Homo sapiens: one gene and its partners. The protein of the gene in region 3 purifies or fractionates together with the protein of the main gene of each other region. This does not show direct contact. Each region holds a gene or a part of one and is shown on either strand. Other genes may lie near its edges.

Region 1 (4,902 bases), on a different chromosome or scaffold from region 3:
GAGCAGCCTGGCCAAGATGGTGAAAGCCCGTCTCTACTAAAAATACAAAAATTAGCGGGGTGTGGTGGCAGGTGCCTCTAGTCCCAGCTATACTGGGGAGGCTGAGGCAGGTAATTGCTTGAACCCGGGAGGCGGAGGCAGAGGTGAGCCAGGATTGTGCCACTGCACTCCAGCCTGGGCAACAGAGTGAGACTCCATCTCAAAAAAGAAAAAGAAATATATTTTGAAAGAAAGCTATAGTGATGATGTAATAGCTAGGAAAATGTAAGGCAATATAAAATGATATCTTAGAGATATTGATAAGCTGGAGCAGCAAAACTACCCAAGTGCTAGGGCATTATTTAGAGTATAAAAATGAATTCATACCCCCATTTCTTTTCTTTTTTTTTTTTGAGATGGAGTCTCGCTCTGTTGCCCAGGCTGAAGTGCAGTGGCGCGATCTCGGCTCACTGCAAGCTCTGCCTTCCGGGTTCACGCCATTCTCCTGCCTCAGCCTCCCAAGTAGCTGGGACTACAGGCGCCTGCAACCACACGCGGCTAATTTTTTGTATTTTTAGTAGAGACAGGGTTTCACCGTGTTAGCCAGGACAGTCTCAATCTCCTGACCTCGGGATCCGCCCGCCTCAGCCTCCCAAAGTGCTGGGATTACAGGCGTGAGCCACCGCGCCCAGCCTCATATCCCCCATTTCAAACACGCTGTAAACAATGCTCAATTACTTTCCTCTTAAGTTGAAACCACCAATTACTGGGGAAAGGGGCAGTTAGATTTTATTGGTTGACTTTGTGTTTTTACTAATCCTTGTTGAAAAGTAGAGGAATTGGTTTAGTTGAGAAAACAAAATACTAAAAAATCTGCCACTAGACTTTTTAAGTCAAGAGTTTGTATAAAATGAAACATATCTACTATCTAATCTATAAAATTTAGAATCTTTTTAATTCTAAAGTTAACTTAAGTGTGATTTTTAGTGCTGTTGCTGAGGCCAGTGTTGCTTAAAGCAGGAACTTCTACAGTAATTGACAAAACTTGAGTTTTTCTGCTCTCATTTATCCATCCTTCAGACCCCTCAGATGTCATCTATTTCCTGAAATCTGACTTCTCCAGTTTTAGTAATTCTTACAATTTTTCAGGATTTAGATAGTACTGTACAGTTTACTGCTATGTATATGTCTTTAATACTTGTTGTTTTCAGATATTACACTAATGTCTCATCTGTAGTATAAATCAGACTTTCTGTCTTCTACCAGTTACATAATTTATATAATTGTTGCAGTACATGTTTGTTGATTTACTAGGCTGGATTCATGTTACAGAATTGGTAATCTTGGTTGGGCATGGTGGCACATGCCTGTAATCCCAGTACTTTGGGAGGACAAGGCAGACGAATCTCTTGAGTTTAGGAGTTGGAGACCTGCCTTAGCAATATGGTGAAACCCTGTCTTTACAAAAAAAAAAAATACAAAAAATTAACAGGGCATGGTGGCATCTGCCTAGAGTCCCAGCTACTTGGGAGGCTGAGGTGGGAGGGTGGTTTGAGCCCGGGATTTGGAGGCTGCAGTAAGCCACAATTGCACCAATTACAGCATGAGACCATGCCTTAAAAAACGGGGTGGGGGTGTTAATCTTGGCTAGATGTCTGTTTTGATTGTTAGGATGAATTGTGTTGGTAGTATTTTTCTAAAATGTTCTATCCAAATCAACTTGTTTATTAATCTCAAATAGGGAGAGACTCTGAAAACTTGTCTTAGAATTCTCTAGTGTCACCTAGGCAATCACTTTTTATGAGGGTCAAGTGCAAAATTAATCAAAAATTTTCCTTATCTGTACATAACAAGGTAATATAATAACACGGAACCACAACATCAATGTTTTAGCAAATTACACATACCTTTTTTTTTTTTTCCGGACGGAGTCTCACTCTGTCACCCAGGCTGGAGTGCAGTGGTGCCATCTCAGCTCACTGCAACCTCCGCTTCCCGGGTTTAAGCAATTCTCCTGCCTCAGCCTCCTGAGTAGCTGGGACTACAGGCATGCGCCACCACGTCCTGCTAATTTTTATAGTTTTAGTAGAGATGGGGTTTCACCATTTTGGCCAGGATGGTCTCAAACTCCTGACCTCAGGTGATCCACCCTCCTCGGCCTCCCAAAGTGCTGGGATTACAGGCGTGAGCCACCGTGCCTGGCCCCAATTTTTTTTTTTTTTTTTTTGGTACGGAGTTTTGCTCTTGTTTGGAGTGCAGTGGCATGATCTCGGCTCACTGCAGCCTCTGCCTCCCCCGGGTTCAAGCGATTCTCCTGCCTCAGCCTCCCAAGTAGCTGGGATTACAGGCATGCACCACCACGCCTGGCTAATTTTGTATTTTTAGTAGAGATGGGGTTTCTCCATGTTGGTCCGGCTGGTCTCGAACCCCCGACCTCAGGTGATCCGCCTGCTTTGGCCTCCCAAAGTGCTGGGATTACAGGTGTGAGTCACCGCACCCGGCCTTCAATTGTTTTTTAAATGGACCTTCCAACTCAGTAGTGCCAGAAACCATGTGTTCAATATTTGAAATTATAATATTTTGATATACGAATTGCATCTATCAGATTGCCTGTTAAACCCAAAAACTATTTTTTTTTTAACAGTTATTTGTTCCAGTTTTTGGTTTGAAAGTGTTTGGTTTAAAAAATGTTATTTTAGCCATTTTTATTAAACTTTATGCCAAAAAAATTAAGGTATGTCAGAAAGTGTTCATAATTATGGAAATTTTCTCTTTGGATAGGCTCGCATGTCTTGGGATAGAGAGTCGACAGAAATTCGGTACCGTAGACTTCAACATTTGCTTGAAAAAAGCAATATATACTCCAAATTTTTATTGACGAAAATGGAACAGCAACAATTAGAGGTATGTATATGTAACTGACTACAAGTGAAAGCTTAAAAAAATTTAAAAATAGCTTTATTGAAGTGTATATTATATACAGTAAAATGGACAGATTTTAAGTGTACGGTTTGCTGAGTTTTGACTAGTAAATATATAGATCTGTGTAACCACCAGCACAATCAAGATACAGTGCACTTCCATGAACTCCAAAAAATTGTCTTGTGCTGACAGTAATCCCCATGGCTGGTGTCCAGCAACTACTGATTTGCTTTCTGTCACTATAGACCAGTATTGTTTTTTCCTAGAAAATTGTATAAATGAAATCATGGTATTGTGCTAGTGAGTAAATAGTTGGTCTTCATCACCATTTCCTGGTATACAACTCTTGAAATCCTTGGAATCTTCAAAGTAATAGTGTTTTTTTTTTTGTTTTTTTTTTTTTAATGCTAATGATCAATGGCTAGCTGCCCTTAGGTAGCTTCAGGATGGGAGCCTAAGAAAGACAAAACCTGGATTAGAGGGTTGGGATTTAGCCTCACCCTCAACTTTGAGGAAAAGAGACTGAAAGTTAACTTGTTCACCAGTGGTCACGATTGAATCAATCACGTCTATGTTATGAGGTCTTCATTAAAAACCCAAAAGGGCTGGGTGTGGCTCACATCTGTAATCCCAGCACTTTGGGGAGCCTAGGTGGGTGGATTGCTTGAGCCCAGAAGTTTGAGACCAGGCTGGGTAATATGGCAAAACCCTATCTCTAATAGAAAAATTAGCTAGGTAAGGTGGCATGTGCCTCTAGTCCCAGCTACTTGGGAGGCTGAGGCAGGAGGTTGGCTTGAGCCAAGGAGATTGAGGCTGCAGTGAACTGTGATGGCACCACTGCATTCTAGCCTGGGTGACAGAGCAAGACCCTGTCTCAAAAATAAAACAGGCTGGGCGCAGTGGCTCACGCCTGTAATCCCAGCACTTTGGGAGGCCAAGGCAGACAGATCACTTGAGCCCAGGAGTTCGACACCAGCCTGAGTAACATAGTGAAAACCCGTCTCTACCAAAAATATAAAAATTAGCCGGTCATGGTGGTGTGTGCCTGTAAGCCCAGCTACTCAGAAGGCTGAGGCAGGAGGATCGCTTGAACCCAGGAGGCGGAGGTTGCAGTGAGCCGAGATTGCACCCCTGGACTCCAGCCTGGATGACAGAGTGAGACCCTGCCTCAAAAATAAATAAATAAAAAAAACCCCAAAAGGGGACAGGGTTTGGAGAACTTCTGGATAGCTGAACACATGGAGGTTCCTGGAGAGGATGGCGCATCCAGAAAAGGCATGGAAGCTCTGCGCTTCTTTCTCCATACCTTGTTCTATACATCTCTTTCTCTGGTGTTCCTCTGAATATGTTGTAATCTTTCTTTCTTTCTTTCTTTTTTTTGGAGACAGAGTCTTACTCTGTTGCCCAGGCTGGTGTGCAGTGCACCATCTCAGCTCACTGCAACCTCTGACTCCTGGGTTCAAGCAGCCCTCCCACCTCGGCCTCCCGAGTAGCTGGGACTACAGGAGCACACCATTATGTCTGTCTTATTTTTGTATTTTTTGTAGAGACAGTTTTGCCATGTTGCCGAGGCTTGTCTGGAACTCCTGGGCTCAAGTGATCTGCTTACCCTGGCCTCCCAAAGTGCTGGGATTACAGGGGTGAGCCACTGCGCCTGGACTGTCATATTCTTTATAATAAACCAATAAACTTTAATGTTTCTTTGAGTTCTGTAAGCTCCTCTAGCAAATTAGTCAAACCCAAAGAGGGGCTTGTGGGAACCCTGATTTATAGCTATTCAGTAAGAAGCACAGGTAAGGCGACTTGGGCCTTGCGATTGGCATCTGGAACTGGTAGTTAAAAGTCTTGGGGACTGAACCCTCAACCTATGGGGTATGGTGCTTTCACCCCGTAGATAGTGTCAGAATTGAATTACAATAGAGGACACCCAGCTGGTGTCACTGCAGAAATGCTTGTTTGGTGTATAGGGAAAACCCCCACACATTGGGTCACAGAAGTCTT
Region 2 (4,902 bases), on a different chromosome or scaffold from region 3:
GAGATAATTTATACTAAGCTGAAAAAAATGTAGGTGAACTACTGACTCAGTAGTTAGGTGAGCTGCTGTATTATTGGTATACAATAATATGAAGTGCAGGGTAGTTTAAAGTTTGCCAGCAAATCATGCACCTGGCCCATGAAAACTGAAATAGATACTAATTCACTGGAATGTTTATGGTAAGAAGAGTGTACATGTCTTGACCAAGACATGGCTATAAGGTTAAGATTAATTTGTTACACATATTGTAGGCCAAAGCATATTAAGTTGAGAAGTCAGAAAGCTGCATTATAAAACAACTTACTTTCTTTTGAAGATATAACAACTGAAATAGATAGTTGGGTCTGAGTAAAAGGAGAGACATTACAAAATAGTTAAAAATGGAAAAAAAGAATTGATTTGATGATGGAAAGCCTTTATCATTTCTAAGTATAATTGATACTTATCCAATTATGTTAACATGTAACTTGTCGACATATACCAGTGCTTTCTGCCATTGTCAGTGGCTATTTTGAGTAATTTGTATTGGTTAGAAGTTCACGTAGTCCTCTTTTATGTTTTCCTAAAGACTACATGGTTCAAAATATACACAATTCAAGACTGATTCTCTATATGAATAAACTACAAGTAGAACTTGTTTTGTGTATGAAGTGTGGTTTTAATATCAGTAATATTTTTATATTGCACTATTTCAAATTTGCGTAATTCAGAATTGCATATGGTGAGGCTGAATTGTATTAATAAAACTGATTAAAGTGAAACTACTTTTTTTTAAATGTAGAAAATAGAACTTCCAAAGAAACTGGCAAAACGCTATCCCGCATATGAGTTGTATCTTTATGGAGAGGGATCCTATGCTGAAGAACACAAAATTCTCCCTTTGACGGGTATTCCAGTTCTCTTTCTTCCTGGTAATGCTGGAAGTTATAAGCAAGGTAAGTCTTACTGGAAGTAAATTTTGAAAGCTATAAAATTCAACTCAAGAATTTGAATCATATCCATACTCGGTGAATCAAATAAAGTAAATGAAATGCATGCTGTGTGTGAAGTGCTGTGCTGGGCTTACAGAGAGACCAAAATATAATATTTTCTCTGAGAGAGAATAATGTGAGAAATACTTAGAAAAGTTGAAGACCACTTTGCAAAGAGAGGGGTACAAAGAATAAGATAGAGTAGGATGGGATAAGTAGATGATAAAGGGGAACCCCTTGGGGAATCAGCAGAGGAAACACATTTATGTTGGAAATGGAGGGTAAAGAGAACAGAACCTTAAGCATTGATTAGGGAAGTAAATCAGTGACTAATGTTATGCAGAACAAGAGAGATTCGTTTTCTTCTTTTGGAGTTATTTAAGTTAGAGAGATTTGGAAGTACTGGGGGGAACATAGAAAGGTGAGATAGGGAAGTTACGTGTACAGATTCCAAATTGATGCTGGCTTGGAGATACAGCAGTTATTTCTGGCGTAACAGCCAAATAACCTGGAATTAATTTCGTTTTAAACTAAAACCTGCTTTCTTGTTATTTGATGGACTAGAATTGTTATGTAATGAGACTAGAATTGTTTCAACATGTGCAATTATTTACGTGTTTATTCATCTAGCACGTGTCTACAGGTATCTACCATGAGCCAGGCTGTATTCCAGGTATTAGGGATCCAGAGCATATCAAGACAAAGTCCCTCTCTCATCAAATTTATATGCTTATCAGGAAGACAGCAATCAAACAAATATGTCAGTAATGTTAAAAGCTAGAAACAAAAACAGACTCAGGAGGTAGAAGATAAAAGGGTCAGGAAGTGGCTAGTTTAGATGAGGTGGTCAGGAAAGGCCATTGTGAGGAGATGACATTTGAGGAGATGCTTGACTGAGGGAAGGTCCTGAGGCAGGAACGTGTTTTGTGCATTGGAGGCTATCGTGACTAGAGAAAGTAAAAAGAGATAAGAATGGAAAAGTAACCACGGGCCATATCATATAAGCTGTGGAAAAGACTTTGAATGAGAAACTGTTGGAGAGCTTTGGGTAAGAAAAATATAACCTGATTTTTAAAAGTAATCTTTGTATTTGAAATATTACATACAGAGAAACACATAGAACATAGATATTTGGTTACAAATTATTATAAAGTGAACACCCGTGAAACCAAAACCCTAGTCAAGAAGTAGATTACCAGTAACCTGGAAACCCCTTCTGTGCCCCTTCATGATTAAAACTTTGTTCCCTTCTTTCTTGACAGAATCACAGTCCTAATGTTAAGAGAGTAATTTCCTTAACTTTCTTTGTAGTTTTAATGCAATCTATGTATATGAGGCTGTTTTTAAATTTTGTAATATGAATATAGTCATTCAGTATGTATTATTTTGTGTCTGGCTTCTTTCACTCAGCATTATCTTTAACATTCATCCAAGTTGTTGTGTGAGCTGTGATTCATTCATTTTCCTTACTCTGTATTATTCTGTAGTATGACTATACCATGGTTTGTCCATTCTGTCTTTGGACAGAATAAATGTTTACATTTATTGGCAATTACAAATAATGAATATTATTCCATATGTTTCCTGGAGCACATAAACCTGTGCTTCTGTAAGCTAGATACCCAAGAGTGTAATTCCATGTTACAGGTTATGTGTATCTTTTTAATCTTTACTGATTGTGCTAATTTATATTCCTAAAAGCAGTATATTTTACCTTCCTTTGCTCCACATCCTTTTACAACACCAGAATTGTCAGACATTAAATTTTTAAGCAACCTGGTAGGTGTGATTTACTTTTAAAAAAAGTTGCTCTGGCTTCACTATGAAGAGAATTTCCTTTGAAGGGCAAGAATGGAAGCAGGAAAGATGCTAAAACATCATAAGTCATCAGAGAACTATAAATAAAAAATGAGATAGCACTTCATACCTCCTAGGATAGTTATAATAAGAAAGATGGATAACAACAAGTGTTGGTGAAGATGTGGAGAAATTGGAACCCTCATACATTGTTGGTGGAAATGTAAAATGTGCAGCCACTTTGGAAAACTGTTTGGGAGTTCCTCAGAATATTGAACATAGAGCTCTCATGTGGCCCAAAAATTCCACTCCTAGGTATCTACCCAAGAAAAATAAACATATACCCACACAAAAACTTGTATATAAATGTTCATAGCAGCATATAATAACCAAAAGGTGGAAATAATTTAAATGACCATCAGCTGATAAATAGATGAATCAAATATGACATATTCATATAATGGAATATTATTCAATAAAAAAGAGGAATGAAGTACTGATACATGTCACAACATGGGTGAACCTTGAAAACATGCTATGTGAAAGAAGCCAGTTCCAAAAGGCCACGTATTATATGAGATATCCAAAATAGGCAAACCCGTAGAGACAGAAAGTAGATCAGTGGTTGCTAGGCCTAGGATTTGGGAGGAGTGAAGAAATGGGGAGTGACTGCCAGTAGGCACAGAGTTTTGTTTTTGAAACGATTAAAAAATATCTTATGTTAGATTTCAGAGATGGTTGTAAAATATATACCAGAGATGGTGAATATACTAAAAACCATCGAATTTTACAGTTTTATATAGTGAGTTGTATAATATGTGGATTATAATGTATCTATAGTATATGTTTTTACAAAATGAAATGGCAAACAGGTATTTTGTTTGCTAAACCATATGCTACAATTTTTGTGCCACCTAATATAAGCAATTTATAATATATTTTTTAAAAAGATTTGCAAAACAACAACAAGAACAAAAAGAGTGGAAGCAGAGAGACCAGTAAAGAACCTGTTAGAGTAGTTCAGATAAGAGATAATAGTGTTTGGATTAGGACAATAGTGGTGGGAATGGTGAGAAATTTCAACTGGGGATAGATTTGGAAGGTACATTATGAAAGCGCTTACTGATGGATTGGATGTCCTGTGTAGGAGAAAAAGACAAATCAAGCGTGAGTATCTAAACCAAGTGATGAATGGATATTTCTTGTAGGAACCTTGTCATTCTTAAAAACCTCAATAAGTGTGGCAAAATTTATATGTCTTATTCTTCAAAGAATCCTGCCCTTTTAGCTATTGTTGCTCCTACCAAAGGAAAAGAAGGTAGAGAGTGAGTGATCTGTTTGCTTTTTGTTTATTTAATTTTAAAAATATTTATGACACACTTACTGCATTCAAGGCATACAGTTGCTAGATTAGTTTGTTCTAAATTGGTGCTATTAATGAATTTCATCCTGAAATAGGTGGTTTATATTCGTGATGCAGGATAAGGTTATTTACTAAGAAATTCTGAAGAAAGAATGGATGAAACCTGTAAATATTGTTTAATGTGCACTTCACTCTTTTCCTCTGCAGTTCGTTCTATTGGCTCCATTGCACTTAGAAAAGCAGAGGACATTGACTTCAAGTACCACTTTGACTTCTTTAGTGTGAACTTCAATGAAGAACTGGTGGCTTTGTATGGTGGAAGTCTTCAGAAGCAGACCAAGTTTGTACATGAATGTATTAAAACAATTCTCAAACTCTATAAGGTGAGAGATAAGTATGCAAATCAATAGTGGTGCAACCTATCGGCACCTTTTTAAAAAAGGGATTCAGTATACTTTAAATCATGTATTTGTTTATATGGAAGTTGAAGCAGAGAAGGCACAAATTTTTTTTGTGAGAGTCTGTTGTCTTGGCCTCCGTAATGGTTTTGAAGTTTAAATTTATAAGAAACATTTCTTATGGTGAATTCAGGAAGAAAAACTTTTTAAAACTTTATATATAAATTAGGAGTAAAATGCATTACCTAAAAACCATTGGTATAGATTTCTACCTCTAGCTATGACTAAGTAACTGGTACTAGGATAGAACACCTGCATATGTAAACAACTGTAAAACTGGTCAAGATATGTGAAGCACCTGTTTTGAGATGTT
Region 3 (4,902 bases):
TGTAAGTACACATGAAAAGATACCCATCCATGAACAAGGAAGCAGTCCCTCATCAGACACCAAATCTGTTGATGCCTTGATCTTGGACTTTGCAGCTTCCAGAATTGTCAGCAGTAAATTTATATTGCTTGTAAGCCATTCCGTCAGTGGTATTCTTTTAGAACAGCTTGAATGGACTAAAACCAGGGTTTTATACACATATGCACACACATTTCAAATATATATATTTTGAAGATTTATATATATTAAGGGATATATATTTTTTCAGAAGACCCTAAGATATCTTGTTCTCCATGATATATCTGACCAACTATCACCAATTACTACATAATCCTCCTCTTCTCTGTCACTTTTTGACCAACTGGATTCTTTTACTCATTTATAGAAGATCATGAAGAACTTGGCTCCTAGTCTTAATCACTAAAAGTCTTGACATCCTCCAGGTAGACTTCAATATCCATGGAGGCAGTTCCTCCAATACCTAAATTTCTGTGTTCCTGAAGCTTCTTGGCTTTAGAGAACTGTAAGAGTAATCACTTAGCCATTCAACTTCCTGTCACACTGCCAAACATGTGTAACCACACCTTCTCTTTCCTATTTCCTCCTTTCTTCTATTAGCCTTTTTCCATATGAATTAAAATGCATTCAAGTATCTCCCATATTACAAAAAGGAAAATTTTTGGAGCCTCTGATTCCCCCTTTAATTGCTGTTCTAACCTTCACCTATTCCCCACCCCTACCAATTAAGTTTCTCAAGGGTCCTCTTCCTTCCCATGTGCACTTTCTCCACTACCACTAACTCCTCAGCCAAGTGCTTATTTTGTTCCTCAGGATTATATCACTAGCAACTTTTTCTTCTTGCTTTATACTTCATCCAAGGAAATGTCACAGACTACAATGACTTCAGCTGCCATTTGTATTCCGATGTTTCCTAAATCTATTTTTTTTTCTTTTCTTTTTTTTGAGATGGAGTCTCACTCTGTTGCCCATGCTGGAGTGCAGTGGTGTGATCTCGGCTCACTGCAAGCTCTGCCTCCCAGGTTCATGCCATTCTCCTGCCTCAGACTCCCGAGTAGCTGGGACTACAGGCGCCCACCACCACGCCCAGCTAATTTTTTGTATTTTTAGTAGTGATGGGGTTTCACCGTGTTAGCCAGGATGGTCTCGATCTCCTGACCTTGTGATCTGCCCGCCTCGGCCTCCCAAAGTGCTTGGATTATAGGCATAAGCCACCGGGCCTGGCCTCCTAAATCTATTTTTCTAAGCCAGATCTTTCCCAGCTTCAGATCTATATATTCAACATCTCCACTTGGTTGACCTAAAAGGACCTCAAACCTAGACTATTCATACCTAAACCCATCTTTTGTCTTCTAACTATTTCTCCTATTCTGGTCAATACTTCAGTGAATGAGATCAACAGCCATGCAGTTGTACAAACCTGGAATGTAACATGTAACTCCTGGTTAAACCTACCTCTTTACCTCCCACAGTCAATCACTATTACTGTCAATTATAGGCCAAATTCATTGACTTTTCTCCATCTTTATTGTTAGTAGCTTATTTCAGGCCACCATTACCTCTCACCCAGATCACTGAACAGTCTTTCTTTATTTTGTTATTTACCAGTTATTTATTAAGTATCTACTATGTACCAGAGACTGTTCTAGGCACTTGTGATACCAATAAACACTTATAAAAATCTTTGACTCTTGGGAGGCCAAGGAGGGCAGATCATGAGTTCAAGAGATCAAGACCATCCTGGCCAACATGGTGAAACCCCATGTCTACTAAAAATGCAAAAATTAGCTGGACCTGGTGGCACGCGCCTGTAATCCCAGCTACTCGGGAGGCTGAGGCAGGAGAATCACTTGAACCCAGGAGGCGGAGGTTGCAGTGAGCCGAGGTCGTGCCACTGCACTTCAGCCTGGTGACAGAGCAAGACTCCATCTCAAAAAAAAAAAAAACTTTGACTCTATAAAGGTTACTATATACTAGGTAAGGATAGACAATAATCAATGAACATAATAAATGAGTAAATCATATATTATTTTAGAAAGTGAAAAGTACTATTACAAAAAATAATTCAAACAAGAAAGAATTGTATGGTAAATTTAGTCCTAGAGTAAAATGACTGGCTGTTAAAGGAAAAGGGATGTTCAGAACAAACCAGAAAGTCCAAGCAAGTCATGAACAGCCTGTGTAAGTGACAATAAGAGGATTTATTTTAAAAAACTCAAAAACTTTTATAAGATCTAGTTCTCTATGATTAAAGGGAAATTATAATGGTCTTTCTATAGATCAGGTTTTATATTTAAAAAACCACTTATACGCTGAATAATAGAATTGGTTAGAACAATGAAATTTTCTTAAGGGGTTTATTTAATTTTAATAAATTATAAGATATTTTAATTTTTTTATTTTAACCCAAAGTTCAACTTTTATTGCATCTCACGGGTTTTGGTTTTCTCTCCCCTTTTAAAAAACATGAAATAGTAACAATACCCTTCAACTCATTTTCAGTTCCTATAAGTTTTTTTTTTTCCTCCTCAGGTTCTGTTTCTTGTGGCCTTATGCTAGCAATGTTTTCTTAAAGGTCTAAAGGAAATGTCTTCTTCCAACATAATATTCTGTGCACTACAAAAGGTCTTCTCTTTTGCCTTTTGGTAACTGGACTAACAGATTTTAAGTTTTATCAAAATAATTCCTATGCATTATTATTAAGTTTGGTTTGCTCAGGAAAAATTGAGAATAAAAAAATTTTAATTAACGTTATTACTTCCTTGCATCTTCCTGTATGTGCTTTTAAAGTCCTTGTGACATTGAGCTACAGGGCTTTGACTTCTGGGTCTAAAAAGAACACCAAGTCCTGCTAAACTTAAGCTCTGACAGCAATTAAAGCCTCATCTTCAGGCCTGGTAGAAGATGCCAATCAAAATTAACTGCATTCCTGAGACACAGGGCCAGAAATTAAAGCCATTCAACTCCTCAAGGCCCAGGGACTATCTTGGAAGAGGTGGGCATATGAGATTGTAAGGGCCAACTTTAAAAGATAAAGTAAGTTCACTTTCTTTATAAATTAATCATTAATGTCAAAAGCACACTGATGCGAGACCAGCATGTGGGCCCCTATGTCAGATTAACAAGGTTTTCTTGAAGCATTAACCTACTCCTTCATAAAGGTTATAAAGACTTACAGAAGTTATATCTTATGATCAGGATGAAAATGTTATAGATTGTTTATACAATTTTGGAAAATAAATTTAATAGGCTTCTTGTTGTTTTTATTAGGGCTTATTGTTTGGAAAATTAAGTCTCCTCTCTCATAGAATGAAGGTTTTGCCTTTTTAAGAAAATCCTTGAGTTATCACTTTGGTTAAATGAATGATTTATTTTACAATGACCTGTGATCCTATTTTGTAATATCAAGTGTTTTAAACCTTTGATATTTGACAAACTTTCCAAAATCAAATTATAAATTATGTCTTTTTCTGACCTTATTAATCCTTTAAGATATTACTAATAGGTTCCCTATAGTCCAAAAATGACGTGTGTAGCTTATTTGGTATAAAAATTATACAGGAAGCATTGTCAAATATAAAATGGTGTTTGGTTTCCTTTGGGCTATATTTGTATAAATATGTTATTGGCATGTATTCCAAAATTACGGGAAACTCCTATAATTCTGATATGACTTAATGCCTGTTATCAGTAATAATTATAATCGTTATGTTAAAAAAATCAAACAGAGTAAGGGGAATGCTAAGAGGTGGGAGTGGGGATGTGTCTGGTGTTAAATCAAGAAGATGAAAAAGACTTGAAGGAAGTAAGAACTACGTGGAAGTTACATGAAAACCTGGAGAAAGGGAAGAAAAAGAAAACAGCCAGTGCAAGGATGTCTTGGACCAGGCCTAGTGAGTTTCTGTGCCCTTTATTTAAATGAGTCCAATAAAACACTGTGCCAAGGCATTTGGGCCATACACATGCTACATGAGGAGCTGCTGAAGGTAGAGTACCATATTCACATTTTCATTTTAGAAATAAAATTTCAGATTCTTGAACACAAACATGATATCCTGTATTTCTGTATCTTTAATTCCTAGACCAGTGCCTGACACACAATATACATTTAACAAAGGTTTTTTGAATGAGTGCTTAGAGCAGGCTGAGACTGGAGGCAGGGAAATTAATTGGAAAACTATTTCAACAATTTAGATGAGCAATGACAAAGTATCGGTCTAAAGAAAGACAATGTGGATGGAGAAAAAAAGGATAGACTTGAGAGACATTTTGGAGGTAGGATTTATAAGACTTAGTGGCTGATCAGCTTGTGGAGGGAGTTTTAGCTTGATTGACTACACAGGCTATGGCAACAATTATTAAGACTGGAGAGATAAAAGTAGAGAATTTGTTTCCATTTGATTTTGTATGCTTGTTTTGTTTTTGTTAGGGGATGATGGTGAGACAGATGATAAATTTGGTGTGTGTGTTTTTTGTTTTGGTAGTGCTAGTGGAAGACTTAGATGGAGATATCCAATGAATAGCACATATTCAAGAGTGGGGCTGGAAAGAGGTTTCACTTTTGGAAGGACATAGCAGAGATTCTCAAATGTTAGCATGCTTAAGAATAAACTGAGGAGCTTGTTAATACTTTGTAATCTTAGGCTCAAACTGAGATTTCAGTAGTTCTGAGTATGGCTCAGGAATCTGCATTTTACACACAGGTATAAGAACAGGTATTCTGGGCAGAAGGCTCCCAGACTTCACTTTGTGAAACACTAATATTGGTAGTGGGTAGGACCTGGGCAAATGAATTAAAAGGTACAAGCATAGAAGAGAAGAGGATCAGAGGAAGAAATCTAGAGAACACATATTTATAGAGAGGGCCCAGGAAAAGAAACCTTC
Region 4 (4,902 bases), on a different chromosome or scaffold from region 3:
CTCTACTTAAAAAATACAAAAATTAGTCGGATGTGGTGGTGCACCCCGGTAGTCCCACCTACTTGGGAGGCTGAGGCAGGAGAATCACTTGAACCCGGGAGGCTGCAGTGAGCCGAGATGGCACCATTGCACTCCAGCCTGGGCAACAGAGACTCCATCTCAAAAGGAAAAAAATCAATTTACAAACAAGGAATGACACAGGGATGAAAGAAGATATTGCATAATGATAACAATATCACAAGAGCAACCCCACAAGTACATGCGGCTTCCTACTGCGTGTAGGAATCTGGCTTGGGGTCCATGTCTGTGTAACTGTGCATGCTGGTTTGGAGTGAGTGTCTGTGTAGACATGTAGGAAGCTAGTACATGTACTTTTCCCCATGCATTTATAAATCTAAAAACATATAAACGGAATCTGCACATGGAAAACTACAAAACACTGATTAAAAAAATGAAACAAGATCTAACTATATGAAGAGATAGACCATGTTCATGGATTGGAAAAATCAAAATCATTAAGGTGTCAATTTGATCCATAAATTCGGCACAATCTGAACCAAACACCCAGTCAGTGCTTCCGCCGAGGCTGACAAGCTGATTCTAGAATATACATGGGAGAGCAAAGGGATTAAAAAGCCAAAATCATCTGGAAAAGAACAGAGGTGGAGGACTCATGTTACCCAATTTCAAGACTTACTAAAAAGCTAATCAAGACCACATCAAGACAGCGCAGTATTGATTAAGGAAGAGCCGCAGAACTCAATGGAATGGAAGAGACGGCCCAGACACAGCCCCCCTGCCCCCGACCCGACACACAGAGTGAACAAATTCTGACAAAGGTTCAAAGGCAACTACACAGACAAAGAGCAGCCTTGGGCCGGGCGTGGTGGCTCACACCTGTCATCCCAGCACTTTGGGAGGCTGAGGCAGGAGGATCGCTTGAGCCCAGGAATTCCAGAGCAGCCTGGGCAACATAGTGAGACTCAGTCTCTACAAAATAAATAAAAAAACAAAGAAGAGTCTCTGTAACAATCATGTTGGAACAGATGGATGTCCACATGCAAAAAGATGGACCTGAACACACTTCACACCTTACACAAAAATTAACCAAAAAGGATCATAGACCTAAATGTAAAACATAAAAGCATAAGACTTCCAGATGGAAATATAGAAGAAAATCTATGTGACTTGGGTTTGGCAACAAGTTTTTAGATACAACACCAAAAGCATAATCTATGAAATTAGAAACTGTAAATTGAACTTTATCAAACTGAAAAACTTTTGATCTGCAAAAGCTACTTTTAACAGAATGAAAACACAAGCCGCAGATTGGAAGAAAATACTGGCAAATCACACATCTGATAAAGGATTTGTATCTAGAATATTTAAAGAACTTTTAAAATTCAATAATTAGAAAACAAACAACCCAATGTTAAAGGTGGGAAGAAAAAACCAGGCCACAAGGTCTGAACAGACATAGGAAGGTGTACGGATGGCAAATAACACGTGAAAAGATGCTCAACATCCTTCATCACTGCGGAAATGCCCATGAAAACCACAGCGTGCTGTCACCACACACACGTCACATGGCCGAAGTGCTTGAAAACGGACAGTGCCCAGGCCGGGCGCGGTGGCTCATGCCTGTAATCCCAGCGCTTTGGGAGGCCGAGGTGGGCAGATCACCTGAGGTCAGGAGTTCAAGACCAGCCTGGCCAATGTGGTGAAACCCCGTCTCTACTAAAAATACAAAAATTAGCTGGGCATAGTGGTGCACACCTGGAATCCCAGCTACTCGCAAGGCTGAGGCAGGAGAATTGCTTGAACCCAGGAGGCGGAGGTTGGAGTGAGCCGACACAGCGCCACTGCACTCCAGCCTCGGCGACAGAGTAAGACTGTCTCAAAAAAAAAACCAAAAAAACAAAACAAAAAAAACACGAACATGGACAGTGCCCAATGCTGCAGAAGGTTCGGGACAGCAGGAGTGCCCTCGCTGTGCCGGGGATGCTGTGGCCTACCACTGTGGATGGCAGACGGTGGCATCTGACCCAGATAATGAAGGGTTACCTTACAAATCAGCTACTGCACCTCTCAGGCCTTCAACCTGAAAGTGTGCTCGCACAGAAGCCTCATGCAGATGCTCATAGCAGCTCTGTTCATAGCCACTAAAAACTAGAAACAAGGAAGACATCCTTCACGGTGGAAGTGGATAAATAACCGGAGGTGCATTTGTGCAACAGAAAAATAATCAGAGATAAGAATGCAGCTGTTGGTTCAGGCAATAACATGGATGAATCTTAAGTGCATTTTGCTAAGCAAAAGAATCTAGACCCAACAGGCTATATACTGCGTGATTTCATTCGTATGTCACACTGGAAAAGGCAAAACCAGAGGGACGGGAGACAGACCCGGGCGTGCCAGGGGCTGGTGCAGGGGAAGTGGTCACTCCCATGCACGGGGGACTTGGGGCTGGAGCTGGGGTGATGGAGGCAAAGCCCACAGCACTGAGCATTACACGAGATGAACTTCAATGTGCACAAACTATTGGGGGAAGACCCGACCAGGAGGTTGGGGGATGCAGATAGAATACAGGCTCCACACGCACGGATGTGAAACAGAAACACACTGGCCAGAGGGCAGGAGCCGCCTAAGCAACTCCGGAAAATGTTCTGAGTGGAGACCGCAAGGCCAGAAGGAGCTGTACACAAACGCTGCACTCCAGGGCTTTCCCCCCCGGGCCTGGGTGGACAATTCTCGCACGTGCACCAGGGCTGAGCAGATGCTAGAGGAGTCAGGGGAGCCAGGTTCCCACTAGCAGAGAGGGAGGATTCAGATGGGCCAGCAGGGAAGACTGGAATACACCGTGTGCCAGGACGGGAGGATGGAATACACCATGTTCCAGGACGGAAGGCTGGAATACACCGTGTGCCAGGTGAGAGTCAGAGTCATCGGCATGGACCAGGTTGACCTTCGTATACTTACAGATGGATAGGTGGATACGACAGAGAAGCAATCAAATGTGTGAAATGAGATAGTGACACACAGAGCCTAGCTCTACCCAGGAAGAGGGCCAGCAGCTGTGACACCCCGGGAGCAACGGCCCTCCCAGTGCCCAGACTGAAGTTTCTATGCTCCCCTAAAAAGAACCAGGGCTCCTTGGAAACAACTCATTCTAGGGCTGGGGCAGAGAAACAGAAGCTGGGCCGGAAGCATCCCTGCGGGGAAGGAGGGGAAACCCACCAGTGGTCAAAGCTGGAGGAGCTGAGCAGCAAACTCACAGTGACAGCACTGGATCATAACCCAGACAAAGACTCACAGTGACAACACTGGATCACAACCCAGACACAGACTCACGGTGACAGCACGGGATCACGACCCAGACACAGACTCACGGTGACAGCACGGGATCACGACCCAGACACAGACTCACGGTGACAGCACGGGATCACGACCCAGACACAGACTCACGGTGACAGCACGGGATCACGACCCAGACACAGACTCACGGTGACAACACTGGATCACAACCCAGACACCATCTCATGGTGACAACACGGGATCACGACCCAGACACAGACTCACGGTGACAGCACGGGATCACGACCCAGACACAGACTCACGGTGACAACACGGGATCACGACCCAGACAGACTCACGGTGACAGCACGGGATCACGACCCAGACACAGACTCACGGTGACAGCACGGGATCACGACCCAGACACAGACTCACGGTGACAGCACGGGATCACGACCCAGACAGACTCACGGTGACAGCACGGGATCACGACCCAGACACAGACTCACGGTGACAGCACGGGATCACGACCCAGACACAGACTCACGGTGACAGCACGGGATCACGACCCAGACACAGACTCACGGTGACAACACGGGATCACGACCCAGACAGACTCACGGTGACAGCACGGGATCACGACCCAGACACAGACTCACGGTGACAGCACGGGATCACGACCCAGACACAGACTCACGGTGACAGCACGGGATCACGACCCAGACAGACTCACGGTGACAGCACGGGATCACGACCCAGACACAGACTCACGGTGACAGCACGGGATCACGACCCAGACACAGACTCACGGTGACAGCACGGGATCACGACCCAGACAGACTCACGGTGACAGCACGGGATCACGACCCAGACAGACTCACGGTGACAGCACGGGATCACGACCCAGACACAGACTCACGGTGACAGCACGGGATCACGACCCAGACACAGACTCACGGTGACAGCACGGGATCACGACCCAGACACAGACTCACGGTGACAGCACGGGATCACGACCCAGACAGACTCACGGTGACAGCACGGGATCACGACCCAGACACAGACTCACGGTGACAGCACGGGATCACGACCCAGACACAGACTCACGGTGACAGCACGGGATCACGACCCAGACACAGACTCACGGTGACAGCACGGGATCACGACCCAGACACAGACTCACGGTGACAGCACGGGATCACGACCCAGACACAGACTCACGGTGACAGCACGGGATCACGACCCAGACACAGACTCACGGTGACAGCACGGGATCACGACCCAGACAGACTCACGGTGACAGCACGGGATCACGACCCAGACACAGACTCACGGTGACAGCACGGGATCACGACCCAGACACAGACTCACGGTGACAGCACGGGATCACGACCCAGACACAGACTCACGGTGACAGCACGGGATCACGACCCAGACACAGACTCACGGTGACAGCACGGGATCACGACCCAGACACAGACTCACGGTGACAGCACGGGATCACGACCCAGACACAGACTCACGGTGACAGCACGGGATCACGACCCAGACAGACTCACGGTGACAGCACGGGATCACGACCCAGACACAGACTCACGGTGACAGCAC
Region 5 (4,902 bases), on a different chromosome or scaffold from region 3:
GTCAGTAAAACTCTTGATAAATGTATTGTAATCAATTCTGCCTCATTAGTTGTTTTTTTTCTTACTCTAGAAAATAAATGAAAAATTAAATGTAGTTGCAACCATACAACAGCATATTTGTATTGGAGATGAGTAGACTGCATTTAAAAGGATTTTTGCTCATTCTTTAATTCTGACACCAAATGTGAAAAAAGGATTGAGTTCTTAATGTTGAAGCTTTACCATGACTCATGCAGTTTCCCTCATTCATCTAGCACACAGTTCCTGAGAGTCAAGGGTATCTGCATCTCAGCTCAGCTGCATTCTCCCCATTGTCCCCCTTCAAATCTTTCCACCTGGTATTTAGCACCTGTTTTATACCCAGCCATGTTCTAGGCACTGAGGGTTCCAAGAAATGGAAGACATAGTTTCTAACTATTAGAAACATTTGGGAATGTAAGAGACAACACTCAACTTAGTGGTAACATGCAGACTCAGTACAGAAAATGTCACCAAACAGGGAAGATAGGATATGCACAGAGAAGCAGGGCTTTACTTCAGGGTGGACTAGCCAGGGAGATCTTTTTAGAACGGGGATACCTTTCCAGAGGGTAGGGTTGAGCTGAAGAGAGAAGGAAGGTTATGGCTAGAGGAGCGTGTGTCTGCTGGGCCCTTGTGTTAGTTTGGTCTAGTGCAGGGAAGGGGCTGGGAGATGATGTAGGAGAGAAGCATTGTGGGCAGGAGGAGAGGATGTGTTTGGGTATGGCTGCTCCCAAGCTGTGGTTAGGACAGCCATAACAGGAGCCTTGCCTCTGCTTTCCACTGGAGAAGACAAGGAGCCTGGGCTGCAGAGGGAACCTGACACCCTATGTGGAGGCCCACAGCCAGCTGGGACAGATGTCCCTGAACCCTTGTGTCTTCTACAGGAAGCTGCGGATCTGTCCTCCCTGAAAAGCATGTTGGACCAGCTGGGCGTCCCCCTCTATGCAGTGGTAAAGGAGCACATCAGGACTGAAGTGAAGGATTTCCAGCCTTATTTCAAAGGAGAAATCTTCCTGGATGAAAAGGTGTGTGTGATGGGAGGCTTTTAGACACAGACTGCTGGGGATTGTGCTCAGCTGTGTGATAGTCAGGTGGCCCAGGTATGTCTGGCCTGGAGCTGGAGGCTGGCCTTCCCTTCAGCTGTCCTGAACTTGCAAGGCCTTTTTCAGCCCCCTGAGCAGAGCATGATCAGACATTTTAAAGCTGTCCTCTCAGTTACAGACAGTCCCTGACCATCTGGTGGTTTGACTTAACGATCTTTCAGCTTTGTGATGGTGCAGAAGTGATAAGCATTTAGTTTCTACATTTCTTCAAGAACCCATACAGCCATTCTGTTTTTCACATTCAATATTCAATAGACTACATAAGTTATTCAACACTTTATTTTAAAATAGGATTGTGTTACATGATTTTATTCAACTGTAGGTTAATAAGAGTGTTCTGAGCATGTTTAAGGTAGTGTAGGCTAAGCTATGAGGTTAGGTGTATTAAATGCATTTCAATATAAGATATTTCAACTTATGATGGGTTTGTAGGGACATAATCCCATTGTAAGTTGAGGAGCATCTGTATTACTTAAGTCTTTCCTGCCATGTGAACTGGGAGAGTAGGAAATAGCTGAAACTCCAACAGGTTCCTCCACTGTTGGGGGCCTAGTACAAAGCCCCACACCCTGTCCCTTAATTCATTTATTTCTTTCTCTTCTGCTCCCACCTCTGCAGAAGGTAGCACTGTTACCATCCTGTCAGGTGGAAGACTAGTGAGAAGGTAGAGTCAGAATTGAAAGCTACGGATGTCACCCTAGGTCAGGCCTACCTTGAGGTCTGAAACTGGACCCAGCAGGGTTCTGTTTTCTTGGCAGTTGAGAGTGGACCTGGATTGGCTGGGCATGGTGGCTCATGCCTGTAATCTCAGCACTTTGGGAGGCCGAGGTGGGCAGATCATTTGTGGTCAGGAGTTCAAGACCAGCTTGGCCAACGTGGTGAAACCTGTCTCTACTAAAAATTCAAAAATTAGCCAGGCATGGTGGCAGGCACTTGTAATCCTAGCTACTTGGGAGGCTGAGGCCAGAGAATTGCTTGAACCTAGGAGGTGGAGATTGTAGTCAGCTGAGATCGCGCCGTTGTACTCTAGCCTGACTGACAGAGCAAGACTCCATCTCAAAAAAAAAAAAAAAAAAAGAGTGGACCTGAATGTGGGCAGTGTGTGTGTGTTGGGTGGGAGAGAAGACTGGAACCAGCAGCCTTTTGAGTCTTTGCCTGAGAACCAATGCCCCGTCAGGAGCGTTTCCTCCTTGAGGAAGGCAGGCATGTAGAGTACTCATATGGGATCTGTCTTTCTCACTCCATAGAAAAAGTTCTATGGTCCACAAAGGCGGAAGATGATGTTTATGGGATTTATCCGTCTGGGAGTGTGGTACAACTTCTTCCGAGCCTGGAACGGAGGCTTCTCTGGAAACCTGGAAGGAGAAGGCTTCATCCTTGGGGGAGTTTTCGTGGTGGGATCAGGAAAGCAGGTGAGTTCTTGGTGTTTACTTGTGGTCTGTAGGTGTCTGTGTCTGTGAGTGTGAGACTCCAACCAGAAGCTGGAGTGGGGGTTGACTTTCCCTGTTTTGGGTCTCCTAGCCTTCCTTCTAGCAAGCCAGGGAACATGAAGAAGGGAAGGGAAGGCAGTTGTTGTTTATCACACATCATTCTCTGCTAGTACCTCATACTTGAATCTACTCACTCATCACAGTGACATCATGAGACAGTTTGATCATTTTGCAGACAAGGAACTTAGAACTGAAAAGGGATGAGCAGCTGCACAAGGAGCACAGCTCATCGGTGGCTCTGCTAGGCCTGAACTCAGGTTTGCTGACTTTAAGTTCAAGGAGCACAGCTCATGGGTGGCACTGCTGGGGCCTGAACCCAGGTTTGCTGACTTTAAGTTTTGTTTTCTGTGCTTGAACAAAAGCGTAGTTTTATTCTGTTTTTGAATTTACTCTCTTGCAGTGTTCCAGGCCACCATGGATGGATGATAGAAAAAAAAATAAGAGGAGAAAATAAGGAATAGAACCAGGCGTAATTAGGGGAAGTGGCAAGGAGGTTGCGGGGAGACGATGCTTTTTTCTGTGGGGATCTTGGTGTCAGGGCTGGCCTAGGAAAGGTATCTGACTCCTCTGCAAACAGGCTATTATTATAGGTCCTGGCTGTGAGGCTCCACAAGCAGCATGGAGCCCTAGGGGAAGGTGTGGAAAGGAGGAATGGGGTCTCTATAGGCCCAAGAGCCAGGTAGGCAGTTGTTTGTGTCAGAGTCTAGGCAGCCTTGAGCCATGGTGGTTCCCCTGCCCTGGAGGGCAGTGTCAGCAGAGGCCAGGAGGATGTGTAGCAGGGATGGAGCAAAGTGGATGAGGGGGCTGGGCGCGGTGGCTCACACCTGTAACGCCAGCACTTTGGGAGGCCAAGGCGGGCGGATCACTTGAGGCCAGGAGTTCCAGACCAGACCAGACTGGCCAACATGGCAAAATCCCATCTCTACTAAAGAAAAGCTTAAAAAATTAGCCGGGTGTAGTGGTGCGCACCCATAGTCCCAGCTACTTGGGAGGCTGAGGCAGGAGATTTGCTTGAACCCAGGAGGCAGAGGCTGCAGTGAGCTGAGATTGTGCCACTGAACTCCAGCCTAGGGGACAGGGCAAGATTCCATCTCAAAAAAGCAAGTGGATGAGGGAAGGGTATGGGAGAAGGACCTGGAAACTGGTGGCCTGACTTCTAGGCCTGTCTCTGTCAATTTTGGACATGACATTAACGTGTAGAAAGTGTTTTCTTTCTGTAGAAAGATGGGGTTTATCTGCATTGTTGGATCTCACTATTAATGTTGATAATTACATACTCTTCCCAATTTGGGAGGAATAAAAGGGAATAGAAATCCTTCAAGTTTAAGCTTTATTTCTTTTTTTTCAGATGGAATCTCACTGTGTTGCCCAGGCTGGAGTGCAGTGGTGCGATCTCGGCTCACTGCAAGCTCCACCTCCTGGGTTCACGCCATTCTCCTGCCTCAGCCTCCTGAGTAGCTGAGACTACAGGCACCCACCACCACACCCAGCTAATTTTTTTGTATTTTCAGTAGAGACAGGGTTTCTACTCATGATCTGCCCGCCTCAGCCTCCCAAAGTGCTGGGATTACAAGCTCACGCCTGGCCTGAGCTTTATTTCTTATGTCTTCCTTTTACAGCTTGGTAACTGATTCGCTTGACTATATTAGAATTTAGCATAAAATGGTGTCTGATTTAACATAAACCTATTTGCTAATTTTCTGGTAAATCTGTCAAAGTGTCTTAGTAATAATGGTTTCCAATGAGTGCCTGTCTTGTTCTACGTGCTCAAGTACATGGTCTCATGTCTTCCTCACAACCAGTCTAGGATGTTAGGCATTTTTATTCCCATCCACATATACAGCAGTTGGCCTAGAGATTTAAAATAACTCAGCCAAAGACACAGCTAAGTGGTACAATGGAAATGAAACTTAGGAACTCAAATCTGTCAAACTCCAGAGACCCTTCCCGGCCCGGCCCTGCCCTGCCCCGCCCCGCCCCTAGCCTCTCCTGCCCTGCCCTGCCCCTAGCCTCTCCTGCCCTGCCCTGCCCTGCCCTGCCCCTAGCCTCTCCTGCCCTGCCCTGCCCCTAGCCTCTCCTGCCCTTCCCTGCCCCTAGCCTCTCCTGCCCTGCCCTGCCCCTAGCCTCTCCTTGGAGGTGTTTCCCAGCGACCACTTCCTGATGTCCTTATGCTTGGGCAGGCCACTTCCCCAGTGGATTGCCCATCCTCTTCCCACTCTGACAACGTGGGGTTCCTTCCCCTACCCGCCTCTGCCTTCTCATGGCCTCTAGGGCAGGGCTTGGCATGC

What was found.
Region 1: the proteins of NXPE2 (region 3) and HELLS purify together in Homo sapiens (affinity purification with mass spectrometry; one large-scale study listed by BioGRID and IntAct). This does not show direct contact.
Region 2: the proteins of NXPE2 (region 3) and PGAP1 purify together in Homo sapiens (affinity purification with mass spectrometry; one large-scale study listed by BioGRID and IntAct). This does not show direct contact.
Region 4: the proteins of NXPE2 (region 3) and LMF1 purify together in Homo sapiens (affinity purification with mass spectrometry; one large-scale study listed by BioGRID and IntAct). This does not show direct contact.
Region 5: the proteins of NXPE2 (region 3) and PRXL2A purify together in Homo sapiens (affinity purification with mass spectrometry; one large-scale study listed by BioGRID and IntAct). This does not show direct contact.

The regions. Positions count from the first base shown.
Region 1 is NC_000010.11:94,551,366-94,556,267, forward strand, and holds part of HELLS (lymphoid-specific helicase), read left to right. Parts: intron 1-2,760; coding exon 2,761-2,883; intron 2,884-4,902. UniProt on the Homo sapiens protein: Plays an essential role in normal development and survival. Involved in regulation of the expansion or survival of lymphoid cells. Required for de novo or maintenance DNA methylation. May control silencing of the imprinted CDKN1C gene through DNA methylation.
Region 2 is NC_000002.12:196,916,030-196,920,931, reverse strand, and holds part of PGAP1 (GPI inositol-deacylase), read left to right. Parts: intron 1-781; coding exon 782-935; intron 936-4,338; coding exon 4,339-4,514; intron 4,515-4,902.
Region 3 is NC_000011.10:114,680,488-114,685,389, reverse strand, and holds part of NXPE2 (NXPE family member 2), read right to left. Parts: intron 1-4,902.
Region 4 is NC_000016.10:956,986-961,887, forward strand, and holds part of LMF1 (lipase maturation factor 1), read right to left. Parts: intron 1-4,902. UniProt on the Homo sapiens protein: Involved in the maturation of specific proteins in the endoplasmic reticulum. Required for maturation and transport of active lipoprotein lipase (LPL) through the secretory pathway. Each LMF1 molecule chaperones 50 or more molecules of LPL.
Region 5 is NC_000010.11:80,424,961-80,429,862, forward strand, and holds part of PRXL2A (peroxiredoxin-like 2A isoform 1 precursor), read left to right. Parts: intron 1-905; coding exon 906-1,046; intron 1,047-2,371; coding exon 2,372-2,536; intron 2,537-4,902. UniProt on the Homo sapiens protein: Involved in redox regulation of the cell. Acts as an antioxidant. Inhibits TNFSF11-induced NFKB1 and JUN activation and osteoclast differentiation. May affect bone resorption and help to maintain bone mass.